Linked DNA regions of Homo sapiens. The protein of the gene in region 3 interacts with the protein of the main gene of each other region in a biochemical or structural test. Each region holds a gene or a part of one and is shown on either strand. Other genes may lie near its edges.

The links.
Region 1: the proteins of ESR1 (region 3) and EP300 form a complex in vitro, tested with the Homo sapiens proteins (10 studies listed by BioGRID, with this or other methods).
Region 2: the proteins of ESR1 (region 3) and SP1 form a complex in vitro, tested with the Homo sapiens proteins (6 studies listed by BioGRID and IntAct).
Region 4: the proteins of ESR1 (region 3) and NRIP1 form a complex in vitro, tested with the Homo sapiens proteins (4 studies listed by BioGRID, with this or other methods).

What each region holds. Positions count from the first base shown.
Region 1 is NC_000022.11:41,172,573-41,179,603, forward strand, and holds part of EP300 (histone acetyltransferase p300), read left to right. Parts: coding exon 1-91; intron 92-1,050; coding exon 1,051-1,212; intron 1,213-3,674; coding exon 3,675-3,956; intron 3,957-4,200; coding exon 4,201-6,384; 3' UTR 6,385-7,031. UniProt on the Homo sapiens protein: Functions as a histone acetyltransferase and regulates transcription via chromatin remodeling. Acetylates all four core histones in nucleosomes. Histone acetylation gives an epigenetic tag for transcriptional activation.
Region 2 is NC_000012.12:53,411,162-53,416,963, forward strand, and holds the end of SP1 (transcription factor Sp1), read left to right. Parts: coding exon 1-79; 3' UTR 80-5,285; downstream 5,286-5,802. UniProt on the Homo sapiens protein: Transcription factor that can activate or repress transcription in response to physiological and pathological stimuli.
Region 3 is NC_000006.12:151,803,680-151,810,681, forward strand, and holds the start of ESR1 (estrogen receptor), read left to right. Parts: upstream 1-4,002; 5' UTR 4,003-4,233; coding exon 4,234-4,685; intron 4,686-5,427; exon of another isoform or gene 5,428-5,592; intron 5,593-7,002.
Region 4 is NC_000021.9:15,061,975-15,068,846, reverse strand, and holds the start of NRIP1 (nuclear receptor-interacting protein 1), read left to right. Parts: upstream 1-3,846; 5' UTR 3,847-4,102; intron 4,103-4,256; exon of another isoform or gene 4,257-5,010; intron 5,011-6,872. UniProt on the Homo sapiens protein: Modulates transcriptional activation by steroid receptors such as NR3C1, NR3C2 and ESR1. Also modulates transcriptional repression by nuclear hormone receptors.

The DNA.
Region 1 (7,031 bases), on a different chromosome or scaffold from region 3:
GCCCAATGTTCTGGAAGAAAGCATTAAGGAACTGGAACAGGAGGAAGAAGAGAGAAAACGAGAGGAAAACACCAGCAATGAAAGCACAGATGTAAGGGCATTGAGTTTCCTTTGAAACTTCTATCATGATTCTAATATTTAATCCAGAAGTGCACTTAAACTTTCAATTGGGTTTTAAAGCTTTCAGGTGTAAAAGAGCTCTTTAAGTTGGACAAGAAATATTGGCTTAGAGAGGTTATTAGGGTTCTGTTTCAGTGGTATTAAACTTTTAAAGCATCAGAGCCCCTTTTAAAATGGCATCTCAGACTTTGAGTAATGTGAAATGATAAAAGAAACTGAAGGAAATCCTGAAAAACTGATAGAAGATTACTTATCTGAAGGACTAGGTTATGAATATTATAGGCCTTGTGGGTCACATATCTCTGGCATATTTTCTGTCTTTTAAAAACACACTCTTTTTAAATGTAAAAAACCATTCTTAGCTATACAAAATAGGCCTGAGCCAGAATTTAAGTTACTAAGCCTGGCTTAGTAACCTCACCAGTTATTTCCCCATAGCATATCTCGAATTACCTCCATTGAATTTAACTTAACAAAAGGCACCCTTAAATAGTCTGTTAACAAACTCTTACAGCCTTGTCATTTAGTATTTGTAGGCTCATAACATTTTAGAATATGAGTGGAAGGAAATAAAACCAAGGTCTTCTGGCTCCCCACTTTGATACACTCTTCACTACCCCAAAGTGCCACCCCTTCCTTGTTCCCTAGCCCCAATCTGGGATACATTCAATCAATCTACAGGGTCTGCACATTCTGTGGCCTCTTCTAGGCAAAAAGCTAAAGGGCTGCCATTGCCTTAAAGATCACTGGGAGAAAATTAGGTCAAATAACAACTTTAAGGAGAAAGAATAAGTGAAGAGAACAGCTAGTAAAATAAGTTACAGGCATAAGATTATGATATCTAGTTTCAAAGAAGGGAGATATTCTGTGCTATTCCCAAATTACTTAACAAAAACCTTATTTTCTTGTCTCCTTTGTGCTACTCTGCAGGTGACCAAGGGAGACAGCAAAAATGCTAAAAAGAAGAATAATAAGAAAACCAGCAAAAATAAGAGCAGCCTGAGTAGGGGCAACAAGAAGAAACCCGGGATGCCCAATGTATCTAACGACCTCTCACAGAAACTATATGCCACCATGGAGAAGCATAAAGAGGTAAGATGCAGCCACCCAGAGTTGGGGAAAAACGGCAAGATTTCTGGCCAGGCATGGTGGCTCACACCTGTAATCCCAGCACTTTGGGAGGCCAAGGCGGGTGGATCACCTGAGGTCAGGAGTTCAAGACCAGCCTGACCAACACGGTGAAACCTTGCTCTACTAAAAATACAAAATTAGCTGGGCATGGTGGCACATGCCTGTAATCCCAGCTACTCAGGAGGCTGAGGCAGGAGAATTGCTTGAACCTGAGAAGCGGAGATTGCAGTGAGCCGAGGTCACTCCATTGCACTCCAGCCTGGGCAACAAGAGCGAAACTCCACCTCAGAAAAAGAAATAAGAAATGAATAAAAACACTGACTGTTCGCTGGGCGTGGTGGCTCATGCCTGTAATCCCAGCACTTTGGAGGTTGAGGCAGGCGGATCACTTGAGGTCAGGAGTTGGAGACCAGCCTGGCCAACATGGCGAACCGAAACCCCGTCTCTACTAAAAATACAAAAATTAGCCTGGCGTGGTGGCACACACCTGTAATCCTTGGGATGCTGGGGTGGGAGGATCACTTGAACCTGGGAGGCAGAGGTTGCAGTGCACTTACAGCCTGGGTGACAGAACGAGACTCTGTTTCAAAAAATAAAAAGATTTAACCTTTCTGAAAGTGAATTAGTAAATAGAATTGGAGAAAAGTTAAACTTCCACATATGGACTTACAACCCCCTTCTCAAAACTTTTTGAGTTATTTCATCATTTACATTGTTTAGTTGTTCTTGCAGTCATTTGGGAAAATAACTGGGTAAGGTTTTTTTTTTCTCTCTTTAATATCATATAATTGATAACGAAAGCCAGGAGAATTGAAGAGTAATTCCTCTCAGGGTTTGTCCAATGGTAGTAATCTCGATTGTTCAGTCAGACTCCTCATTTTACTATCTCGGTTCTCAGACATATAATCAAGTTCTTATAGGAAGTGGTAATTAAGTTGAGAGGGAAATGAAGGCTTGATTTCAGGTTGTAATTCCGTACCTAAAAATTGGTTAAACAGTCTCTTTGGGAGAGAAATAGTTAACAAAATCTTTTTTAGAGAGGAATTTGTTATAATGATGTTATCATGGTGAACACCTATATACATAGGTGTTCAAAGTATCTTTTCCCCCACTGCTCCCCCCATCACCACCCCTTTTTTGTTAGCCTAGAATAATGGGCTACGATGTAATAATGGTAATAACCATTATCTCAGCCATGCTAGTGAAATGGAAGGATTCCTGAGTTCTAATACGTTAGGTAATGATTATTAACAATTAATAGTTACTAGCTATTTCAAGCAGTAAGTAATGCCACAGAATCCTAGGCAGTTGGGAAAAGCCCTTAGAATATATTGTAATAGGTTTGACTTAAATTGTGGACACATTCCATGGCTGTTTAAATTTAGGTTGTAAATCCAAGTATTGGCCTGGTTGTAGGGTGACAGAAGCAGCGAACATTGCTGGCCAGAGACTGTGAGTGTGGCTGCCAGTGTGCACAGATGTTGAATAATCTGTTATCAGTACAGCAGTTTCTCACAAGTTCCTAATTTCTTAAGGGGATGTTTTACATTTTATTACTTTAATAGGTGTTTATAGTTATATACTAATTAATGTCAAATACATATGTAATACCAGCTTTTTATACCTTTTACACTAATGGTTATGAGAATTGATGGTTGTTACAAGTTTTTTCAAACTTCAATGAACAAGAATTTTATTGCTTTGTCAACAAAGACTAAGATTTTTTATCCATTCCATTCCCTTCCAAACCTGTAGGAAAAGTTACACAGGAAAGTTGCATAGGGGACCTTCATGAGTCCAGGCCAGTTGTTTTTCATACTGTCTCCATATTTGGATTTGTCTGGTTTGTTGTAATTAGATTGAGGTTAAACCATGGATTGCATCTTAAAGTAGACTGCCTTGAGGCAAAATGTCCACTGTGCATGGTGCTATACCTCACCCAGACCATTGTTACTCTGAAGGAGTTACTGAATGAAGGAGAAAAAAATCACAGGATGTGCATTTCAGTTCTATTTATAGTCAGTCTCAAGAGACCAAAGAGGTAAAGCAGGAAAAGGAACAGGAGGCGTATGGTGGTGAAACTAACTCAGCATTCGCCAGTCTCATTGGTGCTCAGCCTGCTGTACCTGCTCACACCTGTAATCCCAGCACTCTGGGAGGCTGAGGCAGGCAGATCACTTGAGCTTAGGAGTTTGAGACCAGCCTGGGCAACATGGCGAAGCCTCGTCTCTACAAAAAATGCAGAAATTAGCCAGGTGTGGTGGTGTGGGCCTGTGGTCTCAGCTATTCAGGAGGCCATGGTGGGATAATTGCTTGAGCCCAGGAGGCAGAGGTTGTAGTGAGCCAAGATCACGCCACTGCATTCCAGCCTGGATGACAGAGCGAGGCCCTGTCTCAAAAAAAAGAGACTGTCTGTTTTTCAGGTCTTCTTTGTGATCCGCCTCATTGCTGGCCCTGCTGCCAACTCCCTGCCTCCCATTGTTGATCCTGATCCTCTCATCCCCTGCGATCTGATGGATGGTCGGGATGCGTTTCTCACGCTGGCAAGGGACAAGCACCTGGAGTTCTCTTCACTCCGAAGAGCCCAGTGGTCCACCATGTGCATGCTGGTGGAGCTGCACACGCAGAGCCAGGACCGCTTTGTCTACACCTGCAATGAATGCAAGCACCATGTGGAGACACGCTGGCACTGTACTGTCTGTGAGGTAGGCACCGGGTTGTGGGAAGGAGGAGGTGAGCTCCGCAGGGTTGTTCTGAGGGGCCATGCAGCCACGTATTTTATAGAGGCCTGTGGGATGCTAGGGGCTTGGCCTCGTGTTTGAGGGGCAGAGCTGAAGAGGCTAGTTTTTGTTCTACGAAAGGGGCTTTTCTAGCCCAAACAATATCTAAAATACTTTTGAATGACTTAAATCTTGGAGAGTTTACGTGCACCTCCTGTTTTTTCCCTAGGATTATGACTTGTGTATCACCTGCTATAACACTAAAAACCATGACCACAAAATGGAGAAACTAGGCCTTGGCTTAGATGATGAGAGCAACAACCAGCAGGCTGCAGCCACCCAGAGCCCAGGCGATTCTCGCCGCCTGAGTATCCAGCGCTGCATCCAGTCTCTGGTCCATGCTTGCCAGTGTCGGAATGCCAATTGCTCACTGCCATCCTGCCAGAAGATGAAGCGGGTTGTGCAGCATACCAAGGGTTGCAAACGGAAAACCAATGGCGGGTGCCCCATCTGCAAGCAGCTCATTGCCCTCTGCTGCTACCATGCCAAGCACTGCCAGGAGAACAAATGCCCGGTGCCGTTCTGCCTAAACATCAAGCAGAAGCTCCGGCAGCAACAGCTGCAGCACCGACTACAGCAGGCCCAAATGCTTCGCAGGAGGATGGCCAGCATGCAGCGGACTGGTGTGGTTGGGCAGCAACAGGGCCTCCCTTCCCCCACTCCTGCCACTCCAACGACACCAACTGGCCAACAGCCAACCACCCCGCAGACGCCCCAGCCCACTTCTCAGCCTCAGCCTACCCCTCCCAATAGCATGCCACCCTACTTGCCCAGGACTCAAGCTGCTGGCCCTGTGTCCCAGGGTAAGGCAGCAGGCCAGGTGACCCCTCCAACCCCTCCTCAGACTGCTCAGCCACCCCTTCCAGGGCCCCCACCTGCAGCAGTGGAAATGGCAATGCAGATTCAGAGAGCAGCGGAGACGCAGCGCCAGATGGCCCACGTGCAAATTTTTCAAAGGCCAATCCAACACCAGATGCCCCCGATGACTCCCATGGCCCCCATGGGTATGAACCCACCTCCCATGACCAGAGGTCCCAGTGGGCATTTGGAGCCAGGGATGGGACCGACAGGGATGCAGCAACAGCCACCCTGGAGCCAAGGAGGATTGCCTCAGCCCCAGCAACTACAGTCTGGGATGCCAAGGCCAGCCATGATGTCAGTGGCCCAGCATGGTCAACCTTTGAACATGGCTCCACAACCAGGATTGGGCCAGGTAGGTATCAGCCCACTCAAACCAGGCACTGTGTCTCAACAAGCCTTACAAAACCTTTTGCGGACTCTCAGGTCTCCCAGCTCTCCCCTGCAGCAGCAACAGGTGCTTAGTATCCTTCACGCCAACCCCCAGCTGTTGGCTGCATTCATCAAGCAGCGGGCTGCCAAGTATGCCAACTCTAATCCACAACCCATCCCTGGGCAGCCTGGCATGCCCCAGGGGCAGCCAGGGCTACAGCCACCTACCATGCCAGGTCAGCAGGGGGTCCACTCCAATCCAGCCATGCAGAACATGAATCCAATGCAGGCGGGCGTTCAGAGGGCTGGCCTGCCCCAGCAGCAACCACAGCAGCAACTCCAGCCACCCATGGGAGGGATGAGCCCCCAGGCTCAGCAGATGAACATGAACCACAACACCATGCCTTCACAATTCCGAGACATCTTGAGACGACAGCAAATGATGCAACAGCAGCAGCAACAGGGAGCAGGGCCAGGAATAGGCCCTGGAATGGCCAACCATAACCAGTTCCAGCAACCCCAAGGAGTTGGCTACCCACCACAGCAGCAGCAGCGGATGCAGCATCACATGCAACAGATGCAACAAGGAAATATGGGACAGATAGGCCAGCTTCCCCAGGCCTTGGGAGCAGAGGCAGGTGCCAGTCTACAGGCCTATCAGCAGCGACTCCTTCAGCAACAGATGGGGTCCCCTGTTCAGCCCAACCCCATGAGCCCCCAGCAGCATATGCTCCCAAATCAGGCCCAGTCCCCACACCTACAAGGCCAGCAGATCCCTAATTCTCTCTCCAATCAAGTGCGCTCTCCCCAGCCTGTCCCTTCTCCACGGCCACAGTCCCAGCCCCCCCACTCCAGTCCTTCCCCAAGGATGCAGCCTCAGCCTTCTCCACACCACGTTTCCCCACAGACAAGTTCCCCACATCCTGGACTGGTAGCTGCCCAGGCCAACCCCATGGAACAAGGGCATTTTGCCAGCCCGGACCAGAATTCAATGCTTTCTCAGCTTGCTAGCAATCCAGGCATGGCAAACCTCCATGGTGCAAGCGCCACGGACCTGGGACTCAGCACCGATAACTCAGACTTGAATTCAAACCTCTCACAGAGTACACTAGACATACACTAGAGACACCTTGTAGTATTTTGGGAGCAAAAAAATTATTTTCTCTTAACAAGACTTTTTGTACTGAAAACAATTTTTTTGAATCTTTCGTAGCCTAAAAGACAATTTTCCTTGGAACACATAAGAACTGTGCAGTAGCCGTTTGTGGTTTAAAGCAAACATGCAAGATGAACCTGAGGGATGATAGAATACAAAGAATATATTTTTGTTATGGCTGGTTACCACCAGCCTTTCTTCCCCTTTGTGTGTGTGGTTCAAGTGTGCACTGGGAGGAGGCTGAGGCCTGTGAAGCCAAACAATATGCTCCTGCCTTGCACCTCCAATAGGTTTTATTATTTTTTTTAAATTAATGAACATATGTAATATTAATAGTTATTATTTACTGGTGCAGATGGTTGACATTTTTCCCTATTTTCCTCACTTTATGGAAGAGTTAAAACATTTCTAAACCAGAGGACAAAAGGGGTTAATGTTACTTTAAAATTACATTCTATATATATATAAATATATATAAATATATATTAAAATACCAGTTTTTTTTCTCTGGGTGCAAAGATGTTCATTCTTTTAAAAAATGTTTAAAAAAAAAAAAAAACTGCCTTTCTTCCCCTCAAGTCAACTTTTGTGCTCCAGAAAATTTTCTATTCTGT
Region 2 (5,802 bases), on a different chromosome or scaffold from region 3:
CCGTCTTGCCAACAGTGGCATCAACGTCATGCAGGTGGCAGATCTGCAGTCCATTAATATCAGTGGCAATGGCTTCTGAGATCAGGCACCCGGGGCCAGAGACATATGGGCCATACCCCTTAACCCCGGGATGCAAGGTAGCATGGGTCCAAGAGACATGGAAGAGAGAGCCATGAAGCATTAAAATGCATGGTGTTGAGAAGAATCAGGAGAGGGATACAAGAGAGGAGATGGGGTCCCGGCACCCATCTGTATCATCAGTGCCTCTTTGAAGGTGGGAAACATTAGTGAAAATTCTGTTGGTGCCACGCTTTGATGAGCATTTGTTTGACCCCAGTTTCTTCTTACACTTCTTACCCCAGCCTACCCTTCCTGCATTTCTCTTCTCAGCTCTTCCATGATGGATTCCCCCCCCTTTCCTAAAGCCATCATGCCTTGATAAATATATATGATCATTGAAATACTTTTTAACAAAAAACAGATTCTATATTATTATATATATATATATATATATAAAGATATATAGAGATGCATTCACAGGGGTTGGCTGGGAGGAGGAAGACCATTCTGTGACCAAAATACCTTGGTCATTTTTTTTATATTGCCTTATTTCCCTATGGCTGAGCCTTGTTGTGACACATCAAGCTTTTCTGTAGATGTTGTCTTGGCTTCCCACCAGCTTAAGCGTTCATATGCTCTGCTTTTAGTTCATATATACATACATAATGTTTTTCCTTTCTTAATTTTGTCTTTTTGTTTGGGATCAGCTTCTTGCACTCCTTCCCTAACTCAACTGTTGCCGTCTCATCTTCTCTCATCTGATCACTTCATGTTTTGTTTTTGTTACTGCCTGGATGAGGCACTTCTGTCAATTTTTTCAGGACCTTAGTTCCAGCAGCAGAATGGAAAAATCCTTGAAGCCCAGGCTGATGCTTGAAGTAACTGTGGAGGGAGTGTTCAAAATACTACTGACGCAGGCACCTTCTTGGCGCTGGAGAGTCAAAGGCATCTCCCTTCATTAGCTGCTCTGAGCATCAAGAATTAGAAGTCTTTCAGTGGAATTGTACAAGAGTCCCTTTGAAGATAATAATCTTGGCTCAGTTTGTATAAACTGTCAAATTTTCAAATAATAGGTAGGGGGCTTTCACTAGGAAAATCATGTGCTCAGAAGAGGAAATGACTCGTAGTCAGGTTCAGGAGTTAGTGGAGTATTTGGACTTTGGTACTGCTGTCTTCCAAGGTAGCTCTAAGTTTTGATGTGTGGGCTTCTGAGTTTATATTCTGAAAGGAAATACACTTCTTTTGAACATCCCCACTAGGTTCTTTTCCATTGTCAATAAGGAGCATCAGCCAGTGAATCTGTTTCAGGTTTCCATTCTGCAGAACTCCTCCAAAGCATGTGCTAGTGGCAAGACAGTGGTTCTTATGATGTTTTCCCTTAACTTTTCCTTGTATGTTCTTGGGTGGTTCCTAAGGGAAAGGGAAGCACATGATCATGGGAATGATAGCCCAGAACAAAAAGAAATCTTGTCTTACCACAGTGTTTTATAGGAGAGATTGGGAGAAATCATCCTGTTTTCTCTGTGACCTGATTTCAGAAGAGACTGATCCAAAAATTATAACGGCAGGGAACCTAGTGCATTTGGCACTGAGATTTAAATGCAACCAGAATTGTCCTCAAGGCCCAGCCATAAAAGCATTGTCTCTCTCGACCTTCTGGTATCTTGTTAGAGAGCTTTTCACTGTGAGGAAGTGTGGAAAAATAGCTCTGTGTGTGTGTGTGTGTGTGTGTGTGTGTGTGTGTGTAATCTGTTAGGTTGGGGATAGGTTTTCTGCTAGCCAATATTAAAAGAGACCTGCAATAAAAAAATTACCCTGATCTGATAGAAAGCAAGTGTTTTTGTATGTGTGGGTGAATGTGTGTTCATGCCCGTATATGTCTACACACAGATGACAAATTATATTTGAAATCGTTGGAAAATAAATTCAGATCAAAATGCCTTTCAGGCCCATTACCTAGAAATCTATCTTAAAACCTGGGTATGTTCCTAAGGTCATTTCTTTGCTTATGCTAAATTAATTACAATTATGAATGGAGGATATTCTACTGTACTTTTTTAAAAAGAAACTATTTTTGTGTTTGAAAGTGAAACCAACATCCAGATCTATAGCAGAGTCCTTATTCTTCTCATAAATCTTTTTACTTTGGCTACAAATAGATGATGGTATGATTCTATTATATATTTTATATAAAATCCATCCAAATTAAGTTTTGGGTAAGTGTGTTGTTTAATCTGAACTATAGTAACTTAATACTCTAAACAATAGTTCACTCCATTTGGTCCTTTCTCCACAGATGTAATTATGTTTTCAACTCAGGAACTATGGCAAGGAACTTTCCCCAGATCAAATTCTATTAACGCTGAGATACAAGTCATCCATGCACAGCCACTATCATACCCTTTATTCTCACTGAAAGGCAGAACTCAGAACCTGTTATTTTATGTCTGTAATCATGTACTTTGGCATCTTTTGGAGGAAAGGGGCAGGATAACTCACTGGAATGTACAGTATTTTGCTAGTGCATTTCAAGGAATGGAATCTTCTCCAGTATGAAATTACCAGATATAAAATAATGTAATGATGCTGAGGATATAAGCTTTTAGAAGGTAATTTGATGGTATTTCTTTCTCGAATGAAAAGCTGCTGGTTTACCCTCAACCCTATTCATTAGCATTACCATGAGTGAATTTATATCTAATTATTTCCACTTGCCCTGTTCTCTTCACACCAAGGAAGCTCCAGATCCAGTATCTTGTTTGGCCTCAAAACAGAAGCAGCTTCTTTTGTCTCCCAGCAGTAGTGAGCCACTCAGTCTCTTCCACAGGAAGTTTGGAGCCTACATTCCTTGAGTCAGGAGCTTATTACAGAAAAACCCCGTTTCCCTGAACTTTTGGCTAACAGAAATTAATTTAACTGACATGCATATTGATTCTGAAATTTTTTTCCTAAGTTTTTTTCATTTTTTTGAATGAGTTTTTTAAATTTTTTAGATGACCAAAACTTGCAGGGCAGGGGATGCCCAGAAGAGTGGTGAGATAGTAAAACACTTATTCCCTCATCCTTTCAGGTTTTCAGGTTGCCCATTTATATTCATTTACATGTCATTTGACTGTCTCACTTTTTACCCAGAACAGTAACAACCCACACCGTCTTCCTTCAGGGATTTCCAACTGGCACTCTGTGGGTGCTACACAGAATGCAATTTAATGGATATTTCTCAGCCTGGTTCAGAATAAATTGATCCTTTGATCCCAGAAAGTATATACTGAAGTGTGGGATAAAGATTATGATTAGGGGAGGGTTGGAGACAAAAGCTGTAAATTACTATGGCTGATTTATTTCTACTATATACATATATATTTTTTGCTTTTGTATATCCTATATAGGAAACTAAGCATTGTATTTTTTTTAACAAATCTAAAAAAGCACTATGAACTACAGGTGTTTGACTTTCAAAATATATTTTGTATTGTTAATATCTTCACATTGTGTGAATACTGGAAGCTGCAGATCTTTGCTAGGACGCAATAAATTTATATACTTTTTGAGGGGTTCTTCTGGGGTGCTAATCAGGCCCCTGTTATGCTTAGGGGGAGCCCTGGTGCTACTTGCTTGAAGTTTTCAGTGTAAGTACCCTGATGCCTTTTGGACCTTGGGATCAGATCAAGAGTTTTGGAGATCAGGTACCAAGGAAATAAGGACAGTCTAGCTGCCTCAAGTGAGGGGCCCTTTGCATAGCTCTCCTTCCCCCTCACTGAAGCTGGGTAGCCTATTGGGGTTGAGAGGGAAAATGTGAAATCTCAGAATTTATCTCCCTTAGAAGAGAGCCAGTAACTTATGTACAAGGATGAAAGAAAGGTCGCAGCAGTAGCTTTGGGGAAAGGGAGGAAGATATGGCACTTCTCCAACCCCGGAAAACATTGCTTTTGAAAACTGCTGATAAAATATGAGCCGGTTATTACTTCTGTTTGGGAGACTGTGCTCTCTGTGGTGCCTCTCTTGGCTCTACTCCACAGATACCAGACCTCTTCTAAGAGGATGAGCAGACCAGCTTTGAGGTTGACCTGTTTCTCTTTGTCTGCCTTCCCAAAACACCAGCCCCCAGGAAGACATTAAGCAGCCTTAAGCTTAAATTCCTACTCCCTCTTCCAAATTTGGCTCACTTGCCTTAGATCCAAGGCAGGGAAAGGAAAAGAAGGGGGGTCTCTGGCTTTATTACTCCCCTAAGTCTTTACTCTGACTTCCCCAAACCCAGAAAGATTTTCTCCACAGTGTTCATTTGAAAGAGGAGTATTTTGTCCCATTTTCCCCTTCCTCATTATCAAACAGCCCCAGTCTTCCTTGTCTCTGCTAAGAAAGTAGAGGCATGATGATCTGCCTCTCAACTGCCCTAAGTCCTAGCTAAGTATCAGGGGAAAAAAAAAAAAAAAAAGCCTAACAAATGGGATTAGACTAGGGCTGCAAGTAGTGAGGATTTTGTTGATACCTCTGCTGGGATGTGTGCTTTCCCATATCTTGCCTTCAGGAATTACACTGTGCCTTTTCCCCAGGGATATGGGCTCTGTCTACCCAGTGCTCCAGTTTCCCGGTAACTGCTCTTGAACATTGTGGACAAGGGCAGGTCTTCATATTTTTGATCATCCCTTTCTCCCAGTGAAATCCCATAGCCCTTACCTAGAGTCTAGGGCACAAAGACTTCGGGGAAGATACACTGAGATTGACCTGAGGAGACATCTACACACACCAGTGGCAGCTGCCCCAGGGCCTGCTTCCCCTTCCTAAGTCTGTCATCCTCTGGAAGGGATGGGTGGTGCTCCAATCTCTGGTGCCTAAAAACCCAAGTTTATTTCTCTCTTAACACTGGCAATAACCAGTCCACACCACTGTTGCCTTTTAAAACCTCTTAATAATCTCATGCTGTGTTTGTTTTGATTCCAATCCAATTATCACCAGGGCTGTGTGGGTAAATGCTTTTAAATGCTCTCTCATCTTGTTCTTCCCCCTCACCCCCCACTCTTAGGTATGTATGATGCTAATCTTGTCCCTAAGTAAGTTTCTTCCTGCTCCTTTTGTATCTTCCTTTCTTGTCTTTCCTCCTACCTTTTGTCTCTTGGTGTTTTGGGACTTTTTTTTTTTTTTTTTTGGCCTTTTGTACAAAGATTAGTTTCAATGTAGTCTGTAGCCTCCTTTGTAAACCAATTAAAAAGTTTTTTAATAAAAAACCATGTCTCTGGTGTATTGAAGAGGGTTGGGAATGGTGAGAGTGTACGTTTGTAACTTCATACTCTGAACCTAACAAAGGTTTCCAGCTACACTGTGTTGTGCTCCATACATGTTAATTAGTGCAATTGCCCTATATTTAACTCCCGGGTAAATGGTTTCATGACCAGATCAATGTGCCACAACTACACGGAAATGTGGAGGACCAAGACAAACAGGCAACACTAACTTTATTTTTTTTCTCATATGCTTTTTTATTTTGGAATAATTTTAGATTTACAGAAAAGTTGTAAAGCTAGAACAGAGTTTCCATATAATCCTTACCCGTTTCCCTCATTGTTAACATATTACCATGGTACATTGTCAAAATTAAGAAACTGACATCGTGGCCAGGTGTGGTGGCTCACGCTTGTAATCCCAGCACTTTGGGAGGCTGAGGTGGGTGGATCACGAGGTCAGGAGATCGAGACCATCCTGGCTAACACGGTGAAACTGTCTACTAAAAATACAAAAAATTAG
Region 3 (7,002 bases):
CGTTAGGACAGGTAAGGTAATGGGTCTCAAAGGGAGTGGCCGAAATGCAATGGAAAAAGAGAGATTGTAAAGCTAGAAGGCTTAGGAATTGCCTCTTGATTAGGTGTGGAAGGCAAGGGAAAATCAGCCCTCGAAGAAGACAGTGAGATTTTAATCTGGGTGGCTGGAGAGACAGTGATGCTGGGCACAGACACGGGGAAGTTGAGAGGAACACCATGTTTGAGAATGGTGACTCATATTTGAACAAGCCTGCAATGCCCAGCAGACCGCTGGAAAAGTGGGGCTGGAGACACATTCAACGGAGGAGCCAGATCAATCTTTACCCTTCTTCACCTGAGAGAGCCAGTAAGTCACGGCTGGAACGTGTGTGTCCAGCAGGAGAGGGTAGGGAGGGAAGCCAAGAGAGCTGGGAGCCCGAGTGAAGTTTTTGCCAAAGGCAGAAGAGGAAAGTCGGCGTAGCACAGTATACTTTCCCACCCATGCTCACCAAGCCCAGGGACAAGGCTCACCAAGATGAGTTTGGAAGAGAATGCTGGAGAGAAAGTGGTTAAGAAAACTGCCTTTACTGAACTTCTTGGGCTAACTTTGATTGTAAGTCTCTGAACAATCAAAGCCTGTGAGGAGACAGCTAACCTTCTTATTCTTCCTATGTCAATAGTGAACAATTGCAGATCCCCTTTCCTTTCCTTCTCCTTTCCCCTGTTCCTCTCTCCTCCCTCCCTGAATACTCTTGCTTTTTTCTGGGACTGGTCTAGAGCATGGGTGGCCATTGTTGACCTACAGGAGGCACCACTGTCACCAACAAAGGGTAACAGTCTTTCTTTTCAATATTTATTTATATCCAGTATTTATTTTCAATACTGACTATGGAGAGAGCTCTCCTGTGCTCAAACACTGCAATACTGGGGGTCTTTCAAAGCACAAAAACATATATTTGCATGATGGCATCATTAACATTTTTATGGCTTTCTATTTCTTTTTTGTACTGGTCTCAAGAGCCACTCATAAATCTCTCAGTAACTGCATAGTGTCCCAGGGCCAGAGACCGGCCACTCCTGGCATTGTGATTAGAGTCATTTAATATCCAAGGTGGTGACTAATGTCTGGCAACAAAGCCTCCATTGGGTGTCATGTGTCCTGGGACCCTGAGCGTGGGCACTCTAGGAGCACCTCAGTATTGCGTGTTAGTACTATGGCCGAGAGAATAGTTGAGAAAGTGGTCAAGAGGTGGATCCATGTGAACGCCACTGGGAAATGAGAGACCTCGTTCCCAATCACGGTCAGTGCAACTCGAAAGCCTAAAATCAGTTTAAAACAAAGGTATCTACCTTTATCTTATGTTCATATCCTAGGCTTTTAATAATACGTATTTTTCACATGTTTACAGAAAGCAGTCAACTGAGCTATTCATGGAAAGGTTTGTGGGTTTGGTTAACGAAGTGGAGGAGTATTACATTTCAGCTGGAAACACATCCCTAGAATGCCAAAACATTTATTCCAAAGTCTGGTTTCCTGGTGCAATCGGAGGCATGGCAATGCCTCTGTTCAGAGACTGGGGGCTAGGGCCAGTAAGGCATTTGATCCACATGTATCCCAGAAGGCTTTTATTGTTAAATTATATTCTTTCGGAAAAACCACCCATGTCCTATTTTGTAAACTTGATATCCATACACTTTTGACTGGCATTCTATTTTAGCCGTAAGACTATGATTCACAGCAAGCCTGTTTTTCCTCTTGCTTGGGGTGGCAGCAGAAAGCATAGGGTACTTTCCAGCCTCCAAGGGTAGGGGCAAAGGGGCTGGGGTTTCTCCTCCCCAGTACAGCTTTCTCTGGCTGTGCCACACTGCTCCCTGTGAGCAGACAGCAAGTCTCCCCTCACTCCCCACTGCCATTCATCCAGCGCTGTGCAGTAGCCCAGCTGCGTGTCTGCCGGGAGGGGCTGCCAAGTGCCCTGCCTACTGGCTGCTTCCCGAATCCCTGCCATTCCACGCACAAACACATCCACACACTCTCTCTGCCTAGTTCACACACTGAGCCACTCGCACATGCGAGCACATTCCTTCCTTCCTTCTCACTCTCTCGGCCCTTGACTTCTACAAGCCCATGGAACATTTCTGGAAAGACGTTCTTGATCCAGCAGGGTAGGCTTGTTTTGATTTCTCTCTCTGTAGCTTTAGCATTTTGAGAAAGCAACTTACCTTTCTGGCTAGTGTCTGTATCCTAGCAGGGAGATGAGGATTGCTGTTCTCCATGGGGGTATGTGTGTGTCTCCTTTTTCTTTCAGGACTTGTAGGATTCTTTGTGCCATTTGCATATAATTTGGCAGGTTCACATTTTTTAAGAGCCCTATGAAGTGCTTTTTGCATGTGTTTTAAAAAGGCATTTGAAAATTGAAAGTGTGATTTATGGAAATTAAATCATCTGTAAAAAATTGCTTTGGAAAGTAATGATTGCTGGCCATAAAGGGAAATATCTGCGATGCACCTAATGTGTTTTTAACCCTTTATTTGCTGACAATCTATAGTCATTAATGCTAAACTCGATTTTGGCTTCAGCTACATTTGCATATTGTCCAACAATGGTCTATTTTTGTAAGAATTAGATAAAATGTATACTTGATATAAAATAGTCAAAAATGTAACTCTTAGTAACAGTAAGCTTGGCATTTAGATAGACCATGAACACTTCGTCAGATACTCTGTTGGGTGTTTGGGATAGCAATTAAAACAAAGTATTGATAGTTGTATCAGAGTCTATTAGGCTGCAGCAAAGGAAGTTTATTCAAAAGTATAAACTATCCAAGATTATAGACGCATGATATACTTCACCTATTTTTTGTCTCCTTAATATGTATATATATATATATATATATATATATACACATATATGTGTGTGTGTATGTGCGTGTGCATGTTTAACTTTTAATTCAGTTAAAAACTTTTTTCTATTTGTTTTTCATCTGGATATTTGATTCTGCATATCCTAGCCCAAGTGAACCGAGAAGATCGAGTTGTAGGACTAAAGGATAGACATGCAGAAATGCATTTTAAAAATCTGTTAGCTGGACCAGACCGACAATGTAACATAATTGCCAAAGCTTTGGTTCGTGACCTGAGGTTATGTTTGGTATGAAAAGGTCACATTTTATATTCAGTTTTCTGAAGTTTTGGTTGCATAACCAACCTGTGGAAGGCATGAACACCCATGTGCGCCCTAACCAAAGGTTTTTCTGAATCATCCTTCACATGAGAATTCCTAATGGGACCAAGTACAGTACTGTGGTCCAACATAAACACACAAGTCAGGCTGAGAGAATCTCAGAAGGTTGTGGAAGGGTCTATCTACTTTGGGAGCATTTTGCAGAGGAAGAAACTGAGGTCCTGGCAGGTTGCATTCTCCTGATGGCAAAATGCAGCTCTTCCTATATGTATACCCTGAATCTCCGCCCCCTTCCCCTCAGATGCCCCCTGTCAGTTCCCCCAGCTGCTAAATATAGCTGTCTGTGGCTGGCTGCGTATGCAACCGCACACCCCATTCTATCTGCCCTATCTCGGTTACAGTGTAGTCCTCCCCAGGGTCATCCTATGTACACACTACGTATTTCTAGCCAACGAGGAGGGGGAATCAAACAGAAAGAGAGACAAACAGAGATATATCGGAGTCTGGCACGGGGCACATAAGGCAGCACATTAGAGAAAGCCGGCCCCTGGATCCGTCTTTCGCGTTTATTTTAAGCCCAGTCTTCCCTGGGCCACCTTTAGCAGATCCTCGTGCGCCCCCGCCCCCTGGCCGTGAAACTCAGCCTCTATCCAGCAGCGACGACAAGTAAAGTAAAGTTCAGGGAAGCTGCTCTTTGGGATCGCTCCAAATCGAGTTGTGCCTGGAGTGATGTTTAAGCCAATGTCAGGGCAAGGCAACAGTCCCTGGCCGTCCTCCAGCACCTTTGTAATGCATATGAGCTCGGGAGACCAGTACTTAAAGTTGGAGGCCCGGGAGCCCAGGAGCTGGCGGAGGGCGTTCGTCCTGGGACTGCACTTGCTCCCGTCGGGTCGCCCGGCTTCACCGGACCCGCAGGCTCCCGGGGCAGGGCCGGGGCCAGAGCTCGCGTGTCGGCGGGACATGCGCTGCGTCGCCTCTAACCTCGGGCTGTGCTCTTTTTCCAGGTGGCCCGCCGGTTTCTGAGCCTTCTGCCCTGCGGGGACACGGTCTGCACCCTGCCCGCGGCCACGGACCATGACCATGACCCTCCACACCAAAGCATCTGGGATGGCCCTACTGCATCAGATCCAAGGGAACGAGCTGGAGCCCCTGAACCGTCCGCAGCTCAAGATCCCCCTGGAGCGGCCCCTGGGCGAGGTGTACCTGGACAGCAGCAAGCCCGCCGTGTACAACTACCCCGAGGGCGCCGCCTACGAGTTCAACGCCGCGGCCGCCGCCAACGCGCAGGTCTACGGTCAGACCGGCCTCCCCTACGGCCCCGGGTCTGAGGCTGCGGCGTTCGGCTCCAACGGCCTGGGGGGTTTCCCCCCACTCAACAGCGTGTCTCCGAGCCCGCTGATGCTACTGCACCCGCCGCCGCAGCTGTCGCCTTTCCTGCAGCCCCACGGCCAGCAGGTGCCCTACTACCTGGAGAACGAGCCCAGCGGCTACACGGTGCGCGAGGCCGGCCCGCCGGCATTCTACAGGTACCCGCGCCCGCGCCGCCCGTCGGGGTGGCCGCCGCGCCCGGCAGGAGGGAGGGAGGGAGGGAGGGAGAAGGGAGAGCCTAGGGAGCTGCGGGAGCCGCGGGACGCGCGACCCGAGGGTGCGCGCAGGGAGCCCGGGGCGCGCGGCCCAGCCCGGGGGTTCTGCGTGCAGCCCGCGCTGCGTTCAGAGTCAAGTTCTCTCGCCGGGCAGCTGAAAAAAACGTACTCTCCACCCACTTACCGTCCGTGCGAGAGGCAGACCCGAAAGCCCGGGCTTCCTAACAAAACACACGTTGGAAAACCAGACAAAGCAGCAGTTATTTGTGGGGGAAAACACCTCCAGGCAAATAAACACGGGGCGCTTTGAGTCACTTGGGAAGGTCTCGCTCTTGGCATTTAAAGTTGGGGGTGTTTGGAGTTAGCAGAGCTCAGCAGAGTTTTATTTATCCTTTTAATGTTTTTGTTTAATGTGCTCCCCAAATTTCCTTTCATCTAGACTATTTGATTGGAAATATGTCAGCTATGATGATGACTTTCTGGGAAGCGATTCCTGTCACCCGCTTTCCCCTCCTCCCCACCCCACGTCCTGGGGCTTTAGAGAGCGATTGGGAGTTGAATGGGTCTGATTTCGGAGTTAGCTGGCTGAGTCCGCGCTGGAGCGGATTGCTGGCATGTGACTTCTGACAGCCGGAAATTTGTAGGTGTCCCGCGAGTTTAAAACAAGCCATATGGAAGCACAAGTGCTTAAAAATAATCTCCTGCCAGCCCAGTGACAAGCCTGTCCCACCCGGGGAGAATGCCCCGGAGTGGCGTGCGGGTCAGCCAGGGTCTGCGCCTCGCAGCCACTGTGGAAGGAGCGCGGCCGGTCCAGGACACAGGAGACCACTTTGTGACTTCAATGGCGAAGGTTGTGTGTCCTCATTTTAATTTTTTTCCCTACAAGAATTGTTCTTTCTCCCTCTCCTCTCCCTCCCATTTTCTCTTGCCCAGTTTCTCCTTTTGTTTTTTGTTTTTTGTTTTCCTGATGGGCCTGCAGAGGGATTAGGTGGGCGCTTCTGGTGAACACCTTCCTAGGTGGCCACAGGACAGGTGTACCCCGGACTGGGTTTGGAAGCTTCAGGGCGCCACATGGCTGGGTCCTGAATTAGGCATTTCCCAACTGTACACTGGTATCCGGACTGGTGTCCCTATATCTTTCTGCCTTGTAAGCCGTGGACCAGTTTTTGTTCAGTATTCTGTTTCCAGGGATATTTATAGCAGAAGGAAGGGGACTAAAGTGCAGTTTGGCCCCAGAGGATACTGAAGGGCAGATTCTGGGGGTATTCAGTGTGCATCTTCAGCCGCCTTGGAGAAATTTAGAGCATCCCACAGCCACGCAGATCCAAGCTGTCTTTACTCAAAAGACAAACAATGAACAAAACTTTTAAAGGTTGGCATATTTCAAATTAATTTTACTTGTTTTAATTTAGGGTTAAAACAGAGAAAAAGGATTTCTTCTGCCCACCTTTTTTTTTTTAAATGGAAGAACAAAGTACAGCGATTAAGTCTAATTCCACACAACATTTAAAACTGCTTGATGTGAAGGAAGGCACTGGTATGATGTGAATTCCATAACCTTATGATGGACTCCAGAAACCATTTTCTTCCCTATTTAATTTTCAGTTCTTTTATTGCAAATTAATGCTGCTGAATTTCAATGGGCACTAATGAGACTGCTCCTTGGTAGATTATTTACTGCCTTGCTAATAATTACAAAGTGAACCTGGTCAAATACAGAGGGGATCGCATCTTATTCAAAATTGTTCATCATCCCAGTGATAAGTGGTATCAGTGTAATATGCCCTATCTTACACTTTCTGCATTACATGATATTCAAACACTCTTAGAATAATAAAAAAAGAGACAAGGAACTTAAAAATTAAAAAAAAAACTTGCACAAATGGGACTCTGTGTGGAAATTCAGTTTTAGAATGATTTTTCCTGTGTTTTATTTCCCGGATTATCTTTCCTCTTTTGTTAGAATTCTGCCTGTTATTATCCAGCAAGGAAAAGAAGCATCTATGCAAGTTCTTCATATGGACAGATATTATTTAGTATTTTTCCCCTCTCAGTTTTTCTGCTTAAATGACTCTGGGTATAAAGGAAAGGATTGATTGGGCTCTTTTAGGAAACTTTAAGTTTCTTAAGTAGTTCTCAAAAGTTTTGGGGCTGAAAGCAGTGTTTTCAAACTGCTTGTCATGACCCAGAGGGTCATGAACTCAGTTTAGTGAGTCTAGAATATTTTTTAAAAGGACTAAAATGGAAAGGAATATAATAG
Region 4 (6,872 bases), on a different chromosome or scaffold from region 3:
ATTAATAATTCTGTATGTTGTATAGACATGAAATGGTAATTTTTGATGTATTGGGTTAAAGTGCATTATTATAATTAATTTTACCTGTTCCTCTGTACTTTTGAATATAACTACCAGAAAATTTAACATTCCTTATGTGGCTCACATTTGTGGTTCACTTTATGTTTTTATTGGTCAGTGCTGCTCCAGAGGCTAAGGGACTGTGGCTAATAAGGTAACTGCAGTGGGGTTCCATTTGTCTGTGATCTATTATATTACACATATTTCTCCCTACTCAGGTGTCATAGTTCACTCCATAGTGTAAATATGGGCTCAATACTTCTCAGTGCATATTTTTGTCTTCTCATACCTCTCTACTGTTGAACAGTCTATGTCCTCTCCTGAGAACCTCTTTTCCCACTTTGCCTACATGGCTAATTCTTTTAACCTTTTAATGGCCAGCGGAAGCATTATTTTCTCTGCAAAATGTTCTCTGAACTCCCTTACATCACAGCCAGGACCCCAAGAGAAAGATACATTCTGTCCTCTGGGGTATGACAGTATGTTGGCCAATATCTACTGAATGTCTATTGTCTGCTGGGCACAGGGATGGGTAGCTGGAAGTCCCCAAATGTGAATGAGAGGGATATGGACCCTGTGCCTGTACTGCTTGCATTCTACAGTGGGATACGGACAAGCAAATACCCACTAACAAAACGGTTTTTGAAAATGCTATAGAGGAGAGATTTAGAGAACACACCAAAGGCTACAGAACCAAAGGCTAGAGAACACACCCAGACTACATCTTTGTGGCGGAGAGGTATACTGAGACTGAACTAAAGGCATGTGATCCCACAGGAACCCTGGACGTAAAACAATAATTAGGTGTTTAAGTATATAAACCCAACAGCATTGTTTTCACATCACAAATGATTCAAATGAGACTTGACTTCAAAGTACAAATTACCAAATAGGCATTCTTATATTACATATAATGCCCTAGTATCCTTGCAATGACTCTGTTAGCCAGGAAATTTAGGTATTGATTTACTTAAAAAAACAAAGAACAACAACAAACAAGTCTCCACATAATTAGCATGATTAAGTGAAAATGAATTCCACAAGAGGTGTGCAATTTACTTAACACTCATGCCACTATCAAAAGAGTTCAGGATTTCAGTGATTGGATTTTTGTGGGGTTGAGAAAACAGAATAAGAAGAAGTAGTGAGCAGCTTTGGGAAGTCACCTAACATACAGCAGTGGACTTTTTAACAACAATGTTGGAGGGCTGGAATATTCTCGGCTTGCTGGGCAATCTCCATGGTCCAAAACCTGGTTAAGAAGTAAGAGGAATGTATTTAAAAGATAGACTTGAGTAGTCCAAATATCTTTCCCAAAGTCTATGCACTAAGGTGTGTGTGCGCCCTACTCCTTGGTGAGCCCATTAGTCCCTTACCCAGAACCTATTAAGTTTACTTTAGACAGAATTGTGACAAGTGAGGCTATCTGGATTCCCAGTCCGCACTAGACTGGAAGTTACCCATCAGAAGATGAGGAGAATGTTAGTGGCAGCTATGCTAGTAACAGTAAGGACAATAGATTGTCAGTTAGTGAAGGGGGAGAGAGAGAAATTACAAAAGGCAGAGATAATCACTAAGTCATAGCATCCTAGAGTCCTTCGGTGCAGCGACTGATAGCTTTTGTACCTCCTGGGAGCATTCCTAACACCTAGAAAGAATATAGAATAGGAACTGGATATATTTACTGAATCCGCTACAACCTACTACAATAATTACTTTTAATAAAATTAACATTGAATTATCAAGAAAATGCTAAATGACGTTCAACAAACTGCTTAAGAGAAACATTTGCAATACATTGTAGAAAAATCTGTATAATGGTTAAAAATAATTTTCATAAAAAAAGTTTGACCCCCCACTAAGGGCCAAGCTCCAATTATGCTGGTCATCATTGAATTGAAACGGTTTGCTTTGTATCAATTCTGAATAAATGATGCACTAAAAAACAGCAGACTTTATTTTGCCTAGAGCAGATTTTGAATTGTGGTATATGCAAATAATATGGTATTATATTATATGAGGTTTAACTATATAAAATGGCAACAGATTGCATAGTTCAATCACTAGGGTGATGAAAAATAATTGTTTTAAAATGTGCCATTGCCACTAAGGAAAACATTGGCACTATGTGCCCGGCACTGTGCTGGGTGCTGAATTTATTAAGCATTAATTTGAAAAATTGCTTTCACTTTCAAGACTGTGACAGTATTCTAAAACTCTCATTCATATTGTTTAAAGGTTAAGTGAAATTTGCAATACACAATACAGCCATTACATAACAGGCACAGAATACAGTTTCATGACTTGGATAGTTTTTGTTTTTTAAGCGCATTAGCAACTTCATTTCCAAATGCTATCAAATTCTTCAGGATATGAAAACCTACATATAAGAATGGAGTGCCTCATCGGCTCATTTGTCTTATGTAATAAGTGTTTTAACACGGGCATGCCGTTTCAGAATTTCGGGTGAGACTAAGCTGTACTTTAGCTTTTTTGTGTCAAGCAAAAACAATTTCAGCAACAACACTCGCTTCCCCTGGTAATTTTTTTCATGGCGAATTACTAAATGCTAGATGCTCAAGTCAAAAAGAAACCTGACATCTGGGGAGGTGTTGAGGGGGTGTTAATAGTTCTAGTGAGATGTCTGGGGAGCGTTGAGGATACGATTTTTCAAACAGCAAATACAAGGATAAGGGGAAATTATGGTTTCGTATGACTCTCTCCTCCTTCCACTTTCTCGTTTCACCAATCTGTGGCCCCCCCAATTTAGAGGCGGGTTCAGTGAGATTAGGCTGCAGGAAACCGAGAGGCTCCACCGCGCTGCCGCCCCGGCCTCGTGATGTAATTGTTATTTCTTATTCGGAGACCGAACCGAGGAGAGCTGCTGAAGAAGTAGCAGCCCTGCTCCTTTTCCCTTGTCTTGTTGGGTCAGATCCTTCCCGGGGATGATGCAGATTGGCTGACAGACTCCGCTGGAGACTTCGCAGTGACAAAGCAGCCGAGGATTAACCCTGCTCCTGGGTCCTACGTCTGTCCAGGGAGCTGAGCGGGGCGCTCCTCAGGTCTCCTTCCTAGTTTTCCTCCCAGAGTCGCTCCACACGAGTGCTGGGCGCCTACTACGTGCTGGGCGTGGGGTCAAAGTGACCCAGAGTTCGCGCCCGTGCCCCCCAACATTAAAGCAGGACACACAGATTACAAGGAGATAGAAATTGGGGGTGGGTGGGTGAAAGGGGGCCCAGAGAGCGCGTGTTGTGGGGTGAAGGGGAGGAGGTAGACGCTTAAGGCAGGCGGGGACCCTGGAGCGTCTGGGGCGCCCCGGCCCCCAGGCTGTGCCCAAACGGGAGCATTCGGCCTGGGTCCCAAGAGCGCTTTCCCCGGTCCCCAGGAGGAGCTGTCCAGGCGCCTGCAGCGGTCGCGGGCGGCTGGACAGAGCTGGGAGCCCGGGGGACGGCCCGGGCGCGCCGTGCAGCCCCTCTCTCGGGGACGCGGTCCTCTCGCTGCCTCCGGGTCTTGCAGCCCCGTCTGGGACACCCGGAGAGCAGGCGAGAAGGAAATCCACGAAACAGAGGGGGTTCCGCAGCTCCTGTGAGCCGCCCGGATCCGCGCGGCTTCCTCCTGACCGGGTGACAATGGGAGGGAGGGGGAGAAAAGGGTTAAGAAACTTGGCTGAAGAGCTGAATGGCGTGGGGCGGCGAGGGGAGGGACTGGGCCGCGGCGGACTCGGCGGCGGAGGGAGGAGCGCGGCTGCGGGCGGGCGGTGAGCGAGGCGCTCAAAGTCAGCCTCGCAGACATTGCAGCAGAGCCCCGAACTCGGGAGGCGGCGGCGGAGGAGGCGGCGGCGAGGCGCAGGGACGACCCGGCCCCACGCCCGCCCGCCACCCGCGCGCGCCCGTCCGCCCGTGGCCTCGCGTCCGCCGCTGCGCCGTGAGCGCCGCTGGTCGGAGGGAAGAGCTCGCCGGGGCGCCGGGCCAGGACGGGGCGGCAGGCGCCTTCGCGGACCGAGCCTGACGGAGCCGGAGGCTGGGAGCCGCGGCGGCCTGGGGTGAGTGACGGCCGCGGCCAGGGCGCCAGGAGTAGCGGCCGCCGGCGCCGCCGGAAACGGCCCGGGAGCGCGGCCCGCGTCGGCTCTCGCTTGGCTGGCAGGGCCGCGGGGGCGTCGGGGCGGCGGGGAGGGCGCGTTTCCGGGGAAATCCTGCCTCTGCTGCCTGGTTCGAGTCTCCGGGTTCTCGCGGGGGGCCGGGGCGGCGGGCCGGCAAGTTGTGGAGTGGCCCCGGGTCGGCCCGCCCGTCCGTGCCAGTTCTGGGCAAGGGGGCGGCCGTCGCGTGGCCCCTGAGCGGGGCCGGACTCGGGGGGCCGGGTCGGGGTTGCCCCCGCTCGCTTGCCCTCTCGGTCCCGAACCCCGGGCACCGCTCGCCTCGCCGCTCTCCGTCCTGCTGTCCAGCCGGATCCTGGGCGGCGCCTTTCGCCTGGGTGCCTCCCTGCTCCTTGCTCGCTGGATACCCGGCTGGGAAAGTGAATAGGAAAAGGGACAGCTCGCCCGGCCCCCACCCGACCCCGGGCCGCTCTGCCCGCACTCGCGGTCCCCTCCCGATGGCGAGGCTCACGGACCCGAGGCCTCAGCCATCATTTTACCAGGAGCCAGGGGCCGGCCCCCATTTAGGGTGAGCCCGGTGGAAGTCCGGGAGGCTGCCTTTTCTCCCTTCTTCTGTGTCCACCTTATTACGATTGAATATTGTTTTATGAAGGTTTCCGTGGATGTATTCTGCAGACCCTCCCATCCCTTCCAAAGTAGTTTCCCAATTTTGATCAGGAGTTGGTGTTCAGTCAGAAGGAACAAAGGAACCAACTGTGTCTTAGAGGCGGACAGGCTGGGAGTCTGTGACACATGTTGATCTCTGAAGCATTCCAGGAGTTTCTACCTTTTATCACGTCAATAATTGGCTGCTGAAGGTAGTAAAAGAAGTACGGAATGATAAGCACTTTTGCGTTTTAAAAATATTTTTTAATGGCACATTTTACTTTGGGGAAAAAAGACGTTCTTAGGCACAAGGATTTTTAAAAACCCAGTTGGTGGAACTGAGTTGGAGTTTGTTTCTGGTATTGTAAATGATTACATGTGGGATTGTGAAGGAAATTGTGTCCTTAGAGGAAGAGAAGCCATCTGTAGGTGTCCATAGTAAAAATGGTTGTCGGGTTATATGTGATGAATGCTCTTTCTGTTTCTTGGGGGAATTTGTGAAGCAAGGGGCTTCGGTAATTCATTCTTTAAAGTTATGAATTGCATTGAACCTGCTTATTAGTGAATCATAGGTTTAGTAAGTGGGTGGCATTATTCAGTGTTTAATCATCAGTTTTCCACCTTTGTTGAAGAGACAGTGAAATAATAGACTTTTTAAACAAATGGTGTTTCATCTGCCTGGCCCCTAAGTGTCGGTTGCCGCCTGGAGTATGTTGAAGTGTTTTTCACCTTCCAAGTAAGTGAGTTGCTCTGGTTTTGCCCGGCAGTTCGGTAACGTCGATAGGGTTTATTTGGTTCAGGGAGCACTGGCTTCATCACCTACAGTAACTTTTTTTCTGCCTGGGCATAGTTCCTAGAGACAAAGAAGGAGAATCAATTAGTGGAGCGGCTACTGCCCTGCAGGTTGTAGGATTGGTTGTTCTAGTCTGTTTCATACTCTGGTGGAGAAAGACCTCTTTCCAAACTTACCTTTAAAAGTGCCCTAGGAGTGTGAGTAAAATATACATCAGAACATAACAGAAAAAAAAAAGGACTGTTCGTTGTTGATTTTATTCAAATGAGTTAGTTGAAAAACCAGGTTTAATGCCTGTGGGAAGTTAGTTGAAAACCAGGTTTAATGCCTCTTTTACATGCATTTCTAAACTCTGCAGAACTTGGATTTTGCTAATTTTAACACCCTAAAATATTGTTAACTTTGCACTAAAGAAGTGTGTGAAGAGACTAAAGGCTTTTCTGACTCTTGCAGTTATAAGTGCAAAACATCATGATAAAAAATAACCTATACCACCACCTAGAGTCTGTTTGTTAGTTTATTGCTCATGAAGTTTGCTTAAATTGACATGTCTGTTACAGTTCTGATATAGTCGAAAATGATTAAGAAGTACTAGCTTTCAAAAGCCCGTCCAAGAGAACAATTATTTAAGTAATAAATAGCAAGTGCCACTTTAAATTATCCGTGCCACCTTTAGAATTGAAAATTATGACATATCAAGTTGAGTGGGCTATTCTCCAAAAGATGTTAATTCAGAAGATTTTAAAACGGAGTTTTCAGTTTGTGCGCCAAGGCAGTTCTGATTGCTTAAAGACTTCTGCGTTGTTATCAGAGATTCAAGAAATCTTCCCAATCAGATGCCATTAGAACTTTTTGAAGTCCAGATGAAACAAAAGCAAAAATACAGGAGAGCATTACAACTACAGAAATTCTGGAAATTCAGAAGTTAAGAGAGAACGCAGCCCATGACAGAGTTGTGATTCAGAGATATGAAGAGTAAAATCAATGTGAATTAAAGTGATAATCTGTTTTGCTGGTAGTTTATATGTGGTAAAGCAGTCTATTAAATGAGAGACCTTAGGGAGGCAGCTTTGTTGCCATGTGGCTTATCACATTGTCCATGGAGGAAGTAATGTTCCTCCTTTAAGTGGTGTAGCCTGAGAGAAAGATGGCCTCCAAGATCTTTAATTAAATACCAGTTGAACAGAAAGAACTAGAGCACTGTATTAATTCTGTCAAACATCACTATTTTAGAACATTGAGGACAACTAAAAATGAATTAACGCATATCTGAAAGCAGAG